2 linked regions of the Homo sapiens genome follow. The protein of the gene in region 2 purifies or fractionates together with the protein of the main gene of each other region. This does not show direct contact. Each region holds a gene or a part of one and is shown on either strand. Other genes may lie near its edges.

What was found. The genes of interacting proteins can lie anywhere in the genome.
Region 1: the proteins of ZNF492 (region 2) and HPR purify together in Homo sapiens (affinity purification with mass spectrometry; one large-scale study listed by BioGRID and IntAct). This does not show direct contact.

Annotation. Positions count from the first base shown.
Region 1 is NC_000016.10:72,061,951-72,066,025, reverse strand, and holds the start of HPR (haptoglobin-related protein isoform 1 precursor), read right to left. Parts: upstream 2,801-4,075; 5' UTR 2,771-2,800; coding exon 2,766-2,770; intron 1,270-2,765; exon of another isoform or gene 1,032-1,269; intron 1-1,031. UniProt on the Homo sapiens protein: Primate-specific plasma protein associated with apolipoprotein L-I (apoL-I)-containing high-density lipoprotein (HDL).
Region 2 is NC_000019.10:22,658,324-22,661,823, reverse strand, and holds part of ZNF492 (zinc finger protein 492), read right to left. Parts: intron 1-3,500. UniProt on the Homo sapiens protein: May be involved in transcriptional regulation.

The DNA of each region.
Region 1 (4,075 bases), on a different chromosome or scaffold from region 2:
TGAACAGGCTCTTGGGACGACTGCCCCTGAGAGTCAGGGTTGTAAGCGGGAGGAACATCATGAGTTGGGGAAGAATCTGGGATGGGATCTGGGGCAGCAGCAGCTGCCTGAGGAGTAGGGGGGTTAGGATTGGGGCAGTAAGCAAAGGAAGACAGTCTAGGGGATCCCATGTGCTGACTTTAGGTGTGGGAGTCGGCTTGTCTGACTTCTCAATTTGAGATGCTGGATCGGATTCTTCCCTAGTTGTCTTTAAGGGAAAGAGGAGGACAGGTCCCTGCTTCCAACAAAGAGCATAGTCTAGTTCTTCTTGAGAAACCAGACTTTTATCATTAACATATTGGATTAGGAGTTGACTCATTACACCCTCATTCGACCCATACTTTGGCCAGAAGATTGAGGGTTTGAGGATGGGACCTTGGGTCCAAATGAAACAGCAATATTTTATCATTTGCTCCTTCTTCTTATGCTTAGTCCTCTCATTATCTTTCCAGTATTTTAACATGAAACCTAGGGGACTATCAAGGGGTATATCCTTGTTACTATTTTCATCCTTCTTATTCTCTGTCTTTCTTGGGGTATTTCCCATATTGGGTCTTAGCTAGGCTCAATCCCTCATATTAGGGATTTGTTGCCTGCTGGAGGCTTGCTGTGGCTCAGTTCCTCATATTAGGAATTTCTTTTTTATCTGTCTGGAGCTTTCTGTGGCTCAATCCCTCGTATTAGAGATTTCTTGCCTATCTTTTAGCCCCACCTCCTGGAGGTTCTTCACACTCTTCTCCTTTTGCTTCATCCACTCTGGCCACTTTCCTCCTAGGAATATTTTAAGTCCCGCTTAGCATTGGGAGGACTATATAAACCCCAACATCAGGATCCTTCAGAGAAGGCTAAGCCGTATGAGGTAACCATAGACCCACAGATTGGACTCATTCACTCCACACAGCAGTAGCACTTGTTACCATTCATGAACTTTCAGCCACCAGAATATAGTGACCACCAAGGAAGTACTTTGTCACTCCTGCGACATTTCTTACCTTGGTCTGCGCACAGAGTTACCTGGCCACCATAGTGTTGCAAGTCTTTTTCTCCCCACGTTGTTGAGAGTCTGGGGTTATTCATCAGACCAGGTGGGTCTCGATTCCTTACTCATGAGGCCACTGCAACAAGGCAGTGGGATGTGTCTCCTCACAAGAGGTGATCAAAGACCCTTTCCCGGAGGACAATGTTTTCCCTGTATGGGCCACCAAATTTGTTGGAAACAAATGCTCGGTGCTGCAAAGAAGAACCAACACTGAGCCAAAGGACAAAGGGTCTCTCAGCAAGGCAAATTTACTTTTGCAGAATAGAGCTCCTGGTAAGTCTGGTTGCCACGAGAGCACCCTAAACAAAGGAAAGCAGAGGTTTTTATGTCTAACGCAGCTTGTCCCTGCTACTGTGTCCTGACTCCATTGGCTGGAGTTGGACTGCACAATCCGAACCCGGTTGGCTAACTTGCAAAGTGCAGGAATGTGGTTGCACTGGTGGGAAGGCGGGAAGATCAGTTTTGGTGGGAGAGGCTATTGCGACGGGAGAGGTAAATCACAGAGTGGGTAGCAGATGTGGAATGTGGGCTGTATGGGTAAGGACTGGCAGGAAGGTTGTTTACCAGGGTAGGGGAAACACAGAGAGTAAGGAAGTCTGGCCTTGAAAGCAGGAAACAAAGGACAAGGAAACTTAAGCAGGCTAAACTTTTGAAGAAGAATTTCTTACTGTATTTAACAATAATTTTAAACACTTATGTGGTTATTTCTAGTATTTTGTGATAATTCACCTTTAGGAAATGGTATCTCAAACCCCAAAATGCCAGAAGGTTACCTGGAAGAGAACTGGTGTCTGAAAGCAGGACGGTGGCCATGGGCATTGACACACAGGCGCCATCTGCCAGTTCACCATCTCGCTAACAGACGCCCACCATTCAGGCACTATTTGCTTCTATTAAAATAGTTTCTAGGCAGGGTGCGGTGGCTCACACCTGTAATCCCAACACTTTGGGAGGCCGAGACAGGTGGATCACGAGGTCAAGAGATCGAGATCATCCGGGCCAACATGGTGAACCACATCGCTACTAAAAATACAAAAATTAGCTGGGCGTGGTGGCACACGCCTGTAGTCCTAGCTACTTGGGAGGCTGAGGCAGGAGAATTGCTTGAACCGGGGAGGGGGAGGTTGCGATGAGCTGAGATCGCGCCACTCACTCCATCCTGGTGACAGAGTGAGACTCTGTCTCACAAAAAAAAAAGTTTCTAGTCTTATTATTTCAACATTTCAAAAAGTCTTTTTATTTTTTAAGATCTAAGTGTCTTAATTAGATGTATCCCAGGTACTAGTGTGTATCCCAAGTACTAGTCAATTAATTGTGTCATTCAAATGTGTTACTATTAGTCTTTCTTATTATACATTTTTAAAGAGGAAAATATCTGCTAGTAAATATATTCCGAATGCCAGGAAGCCTACCACGGGAGCTGATGACATACCCTACAAAGACAAAAACGTAACCTCAAGGAAAAAGACACTCCTGAGAGTAAATCTTATCTCCTGGGAAAGACAGCAGCACTGTCTTCTATGGATGCAGAAAAGGAGAAGATTTAACACACTAAGCCCTTTGGTTCACTATAATTTAGCCCATTTGCCCTGTTTCTTTGTTCTATTTCTGCATCTGTACCAATGTATGCAAAAAAGACTGAAATAAAGAACCAGAGGAAAGGCAGGAGGGAAAGCTGTGGACCCACCTCATCTTGGTTGGTCTTGCCTCTGGAAGAGCAGTGCTGTGGGGCATCTGCTGGTCTTTTTATGCTGCCACTAGCTCACTTCTCCCCCTTCTCCATTTCGTAATTCCTGTGTCTACAAACTTTGGACCTGGTAAGGTCTCTATCTTTTCCAGTAACAAAACTCCAAACATTGCCCCTGTTAAGAGTTGAGCTCTTGCTTCACACTTGATTTTCCCGTGGTGTTCTTTTTTGTTTTTTGTTTTTTTTGAGACAGAGTTTCACTCCTGTTGCCCAGGCTGGAGTACAATGGCATGATCTCAGCTCACCACAACTTCTACCTCCGAGGTTCAAGCAATTCTCCTGCCTCAGCCTCCCGAGTAGCTGGGATTACAGGCATATATCACCATGCCTGGCTAATTTTTTGTATTTTTAGTAGAGACGAGGTTTCTCCATGTTGCTCTGGCTGATCTCAAACTCCCACCCTCAAGTGATCCACCCGCCTTAGCCTCCCAAAGTGTTGAGATTACAGGTGTGAGCCATCACGCCCAGCCCCCTCGTGAGGGCTTTTGATCGTCTTTCTCTCACATCTTGATTTGTATTTTTGATCCTATCTTAGTTTCTTTCCATTCCACAAGTATTTGTTAAGTGCCTGCTGTATGCCCCATCCTATGCTCACAGCTACGTAAGTACAGATGGCTCCTTAGAGGAGGCAGTGCCTGCATGTTGAAGGCGGGTAGGAGGTGCTAATACAGCAAGGGGAAGGGAATTTCAGCAGAGGGCCCCCGAGGAAATAAAGCCCAAGAACTGGAGACGGCCGGGCTTGTCAGAGAGCAACATGGAGTTTGGTGTTGCTGAAGCCCACAGGCTGAGGCCAGGAGATGTTGCTAGGGAGGAAGGCAGAGAAGATGAGTGATCAAGAGAATGCCAGAGCTTTTCTCTTACCATTATTTTACCAGAAGCCACTTACTTAATACAATCAGACAATTCTTTAAGAAAACTGGGGAGTAGCTTGTTCTTCCAGGAAACTTGGTGCTGAAGAGAACTACCAGAGGAAAAGGTGTAAGTGACTGTGTTCTGAGAGGCATTTTTTTAAGAGTTTGACTGTTATTTTCCAGTTTCTGGCTATTACTTCTTTCACAGGTTCTAGAATATAAGTGTGCATCTTATTGGCCTACTGGCGCTAACCTGTTGAAGTTTATTGATGAATCTGCAGGGTGCCTGTGAGGAGAGCTTCACAGAGATGGCCAGACCTTGGTGAGAGAGAGTGACATCAGTGTCGTTTTACACCCTACAAAGGAGGGGCCGTATTTTGGCATGAGAAGAAGGTGCAC
Region 2 (3,500 bases):
GGAGTTTGAGACCAAGCCTGGGCAACATAGTGAAACCCTGTCTCTACTAAAAATACAAAAGTAGCTGAGCATGGGGTCACATGCCTGTAATCCCAGCTAAGTGGGAAGCTGAGACCAGATAATCACTTGAACCAGAGAAGTGGAGGCTGCAGTGGGCTGAGACCATGCCATTGCACTGCAGCCTGGGTGACAGGAGCAAAACTCTGTTTCAAAAAAAAAAGAAGAGAAACACAAATAAACTCCTCTGACTAAAAACTAAACACAAAATTTTAGACAAGGCAGATCCTAAGAACATGTTTGAGAGACTCCCAGAATCTCTAGCCAAGATAATTGTTTTCAGACTATGTCAGAAAAAAACACATTTTAAAGACTGTGACAGGTAGCTTTTTTTGATGTCCAAATCTCATTCCAAGATTACAATGTATACAAAACAGGGCAATATAATTTCATCAAAAATACCGTATAAACTTCAGAAAGAAACCATAAAAAAGATGTACACATTTTAAACACTCATAAGTTGAATAATATCCAATGAGTGAAACAGGAACACAGTCCACTGTAGAAAGTCACAAAAATGAGAATAAATACAAGAATATCAAAATATTAAAAAAAACAATTTGGTGGTAAAAAGTAGAAAAATAAACAACTGGAAAATCCTAAAAGAAAAATGATGTAAAAATGAAGTTCAACAAACAAATTAGGATACACACACAGATATTTAAACAGATACATATTAAGCACATTTTCAAAAATCAAAGACAAGAAGAAAGTCTTAGGAGCTACAAGGTAAAAGTAATGTGTCATTTACAAACATAGTCTTATGATATTACCAGTGAATTATCAACAAAAATTCTGCAGATCAGAAAGATACCGTGTGACACAAAGTCCTGAGGGGAAAAAAAAAAAAAAAGCTATCAAGTTGAGGATAATACCATCAACAAATCTGTCCTGCCACATAAAAAGAAAAAACCTTCCAAAACAACCAAATTCTGAAAAAGTATATTAGCACTGCATATGCCCTACATATAAAAGATGATGAAAGCAGTTCCTTAAACTGAAAGTAAAAGTATTAAAAAAAAAAACACATAATCATATAAAAATACATTATTTTCCAGGAAAGATATGCACATACATAAAAACAGAATCTTGTGGCATTATCATAATGGTGCAGAAAACATTTTAAATGATCTCTAAATTTTGAAAAATAAAAGCACAGAAATTATAAACAACTGTTAATGAATATACAATGTAAAAACATAATTAGCAACATCAAAGACAAATTTCAGGGCAGATGTAATGAGGAAGATTTTTTTATTCAACTGAGATTTATTTTATACCAAATTAAAACTATACTGTTGTTTCTTATAGAAGTTTTATGCAACCCCCAAGGTGCCACCAAAAAAAAAAATCTGTACAAATATACAAAAGTGAATTAGAAATAAGTAAAAGCATATCAATACAAAAATCAAAAAGACACAAAGAGAGAAAATGAGAAACAAAGATGCAAGAATCAAATAAAATAATTAAAAATGTAACAGTCCGTCTTTATCAATTATTTAAATGTATATATAAAATTAACTTTCAAATCGAGACATACTTTCAACAGATTAAAAATTTTAAAAACCAAGATCCAACTTTTTTTTCTACAAGAGTCAGTAGAGATCTAATGATAAAAAACACTAAAAGGGGCAAGATGGAAGAATACATTTCATGCAAATATTAATCAAATGAGAGCAGAAGAAATCAAGATAGTATTATGCAAGCTACATCTTAAGTCAAAAACTATCATATTTTACAAAATGTACTTGAAGTTAAAACTCCAAGGAGACAAAAAAGGACATTAAAACTTACAGATTTAGGCTGGGCATGGTGGCTCACGCCTGTAATCCCAGCACTTTGGGAGGTTGAGGCAGGTGGATCACTTGAGGTCAAGAGTTCGAGACTGGCCTGGCCAACATGGTGAAACCCTGACTCTACTAAAAATACAAAAATTAGCCGGGCATGGTGGTGGGCACCTGTAATCCTAGCTACTCGGGAGGCTGAGGCAGGAGAATCGCTTGAACCTAGGAGGCAGAGGTTGCAGTGAGCCGAGATCACACCACTGCACTCCAGCCTGGGACACAGAGTGAGACTCTGTCTCAAAAAAAAAAAAAAAACAACAAAAAAAAACCACTTCAGATTTACTCACTGGGAACCTATGACAAATCTGTATACACGTCTCTCTCTCTCTCTGTGTGTGTGTGTGTGTGTGTGTGTGTGTGTATCTCACATTAGGGCTCCAAACATATAAAGCAAACATTGACAGAATAACAGAGACACATAGAGAGCAACATAATTATAGTAGGATATTTTGACACTGCATTTTCCGTAATAAAAATTAAATGAGAATATTAGTAAGGGAATAGAGGACTTCCAGGCAGTGTAAGACAATTATTTCTAACAGAGGTATAGAAAACACCCCTCAACACCAGGACACACATGGTTCTCAATAGCTAATACAACATTTTCCTTGATAGACCTCCTCTTATTACAAAAAGAAGAAAATTAAGTCTTACCAGTTTTTTTAAAACTGAAATTTTATAAATTACTTTCTATCACCAAAATGAAATGAGTATACAACGAGAAAAAAAATCTGAAAAATTAACAAATATATAGAAATTAAACAACACACTCTTGAGCATGCTCTTGTGAAAGGCTGAAAAAGGTAATACTGTAAAGATGTCCATCCTGCTCAATGCAATCTACAGATTTAATGCAATGTTTTTCAAATTTCTCACTGCATTTTTGAAGAAACAGAAACAGCAATCCCTCGAGTATACAGAATCTCTACATACAATAAAGTACCCAAAAATATTAAAAACAAAACAAAACAATGTTGGAGGCATTACAGTTCCTGATTTCAAAACACAAAGCTACAGAATTAAAACAATTTGGTATGACTATAAAGGTGAAAAAGTAGACTAATAAAATAGAATGCAGCACATATATAAACTCTCACATATATGGTCACATGAAGAGTCATTTGCATACCCACATTTATTTTAGCATTGTTACTAAAAGCCAGTAGGTAAAAGCAAGGCAAATTTCGGTCACCAAATCGTTCAGCAGATATAATTTGAAATACAAAAATGCCAATATATTACTCAGTTTGAAAAAAAGCAGGAAATATTCTAACAACTATAAAGGTAAATCTTGATGACTTTATGCAAAATAAAATGAGCCAGCCACAAACAGATTTTATGAGATATATAAAGCAGTTATACTCTTAGAAACAGAAAACAGAACGGTATTTGAAAAGTGCCAGGAAATGGGAAAAATTGGTAGTTGTTTAATGTGTATTGTAAAATTTCTAGAAATCTTTTATAAAATAATGTAAATATACTTAACATGCCTGAAATGTACAGTGTTTTTGAGTCAGGGTCTCACTCTGTCACCCAAGCTGGGGTGCATGGCACAATTACAGCTCACTGCAGCCTCAAACTTCCAGGTTCAAGTAATCC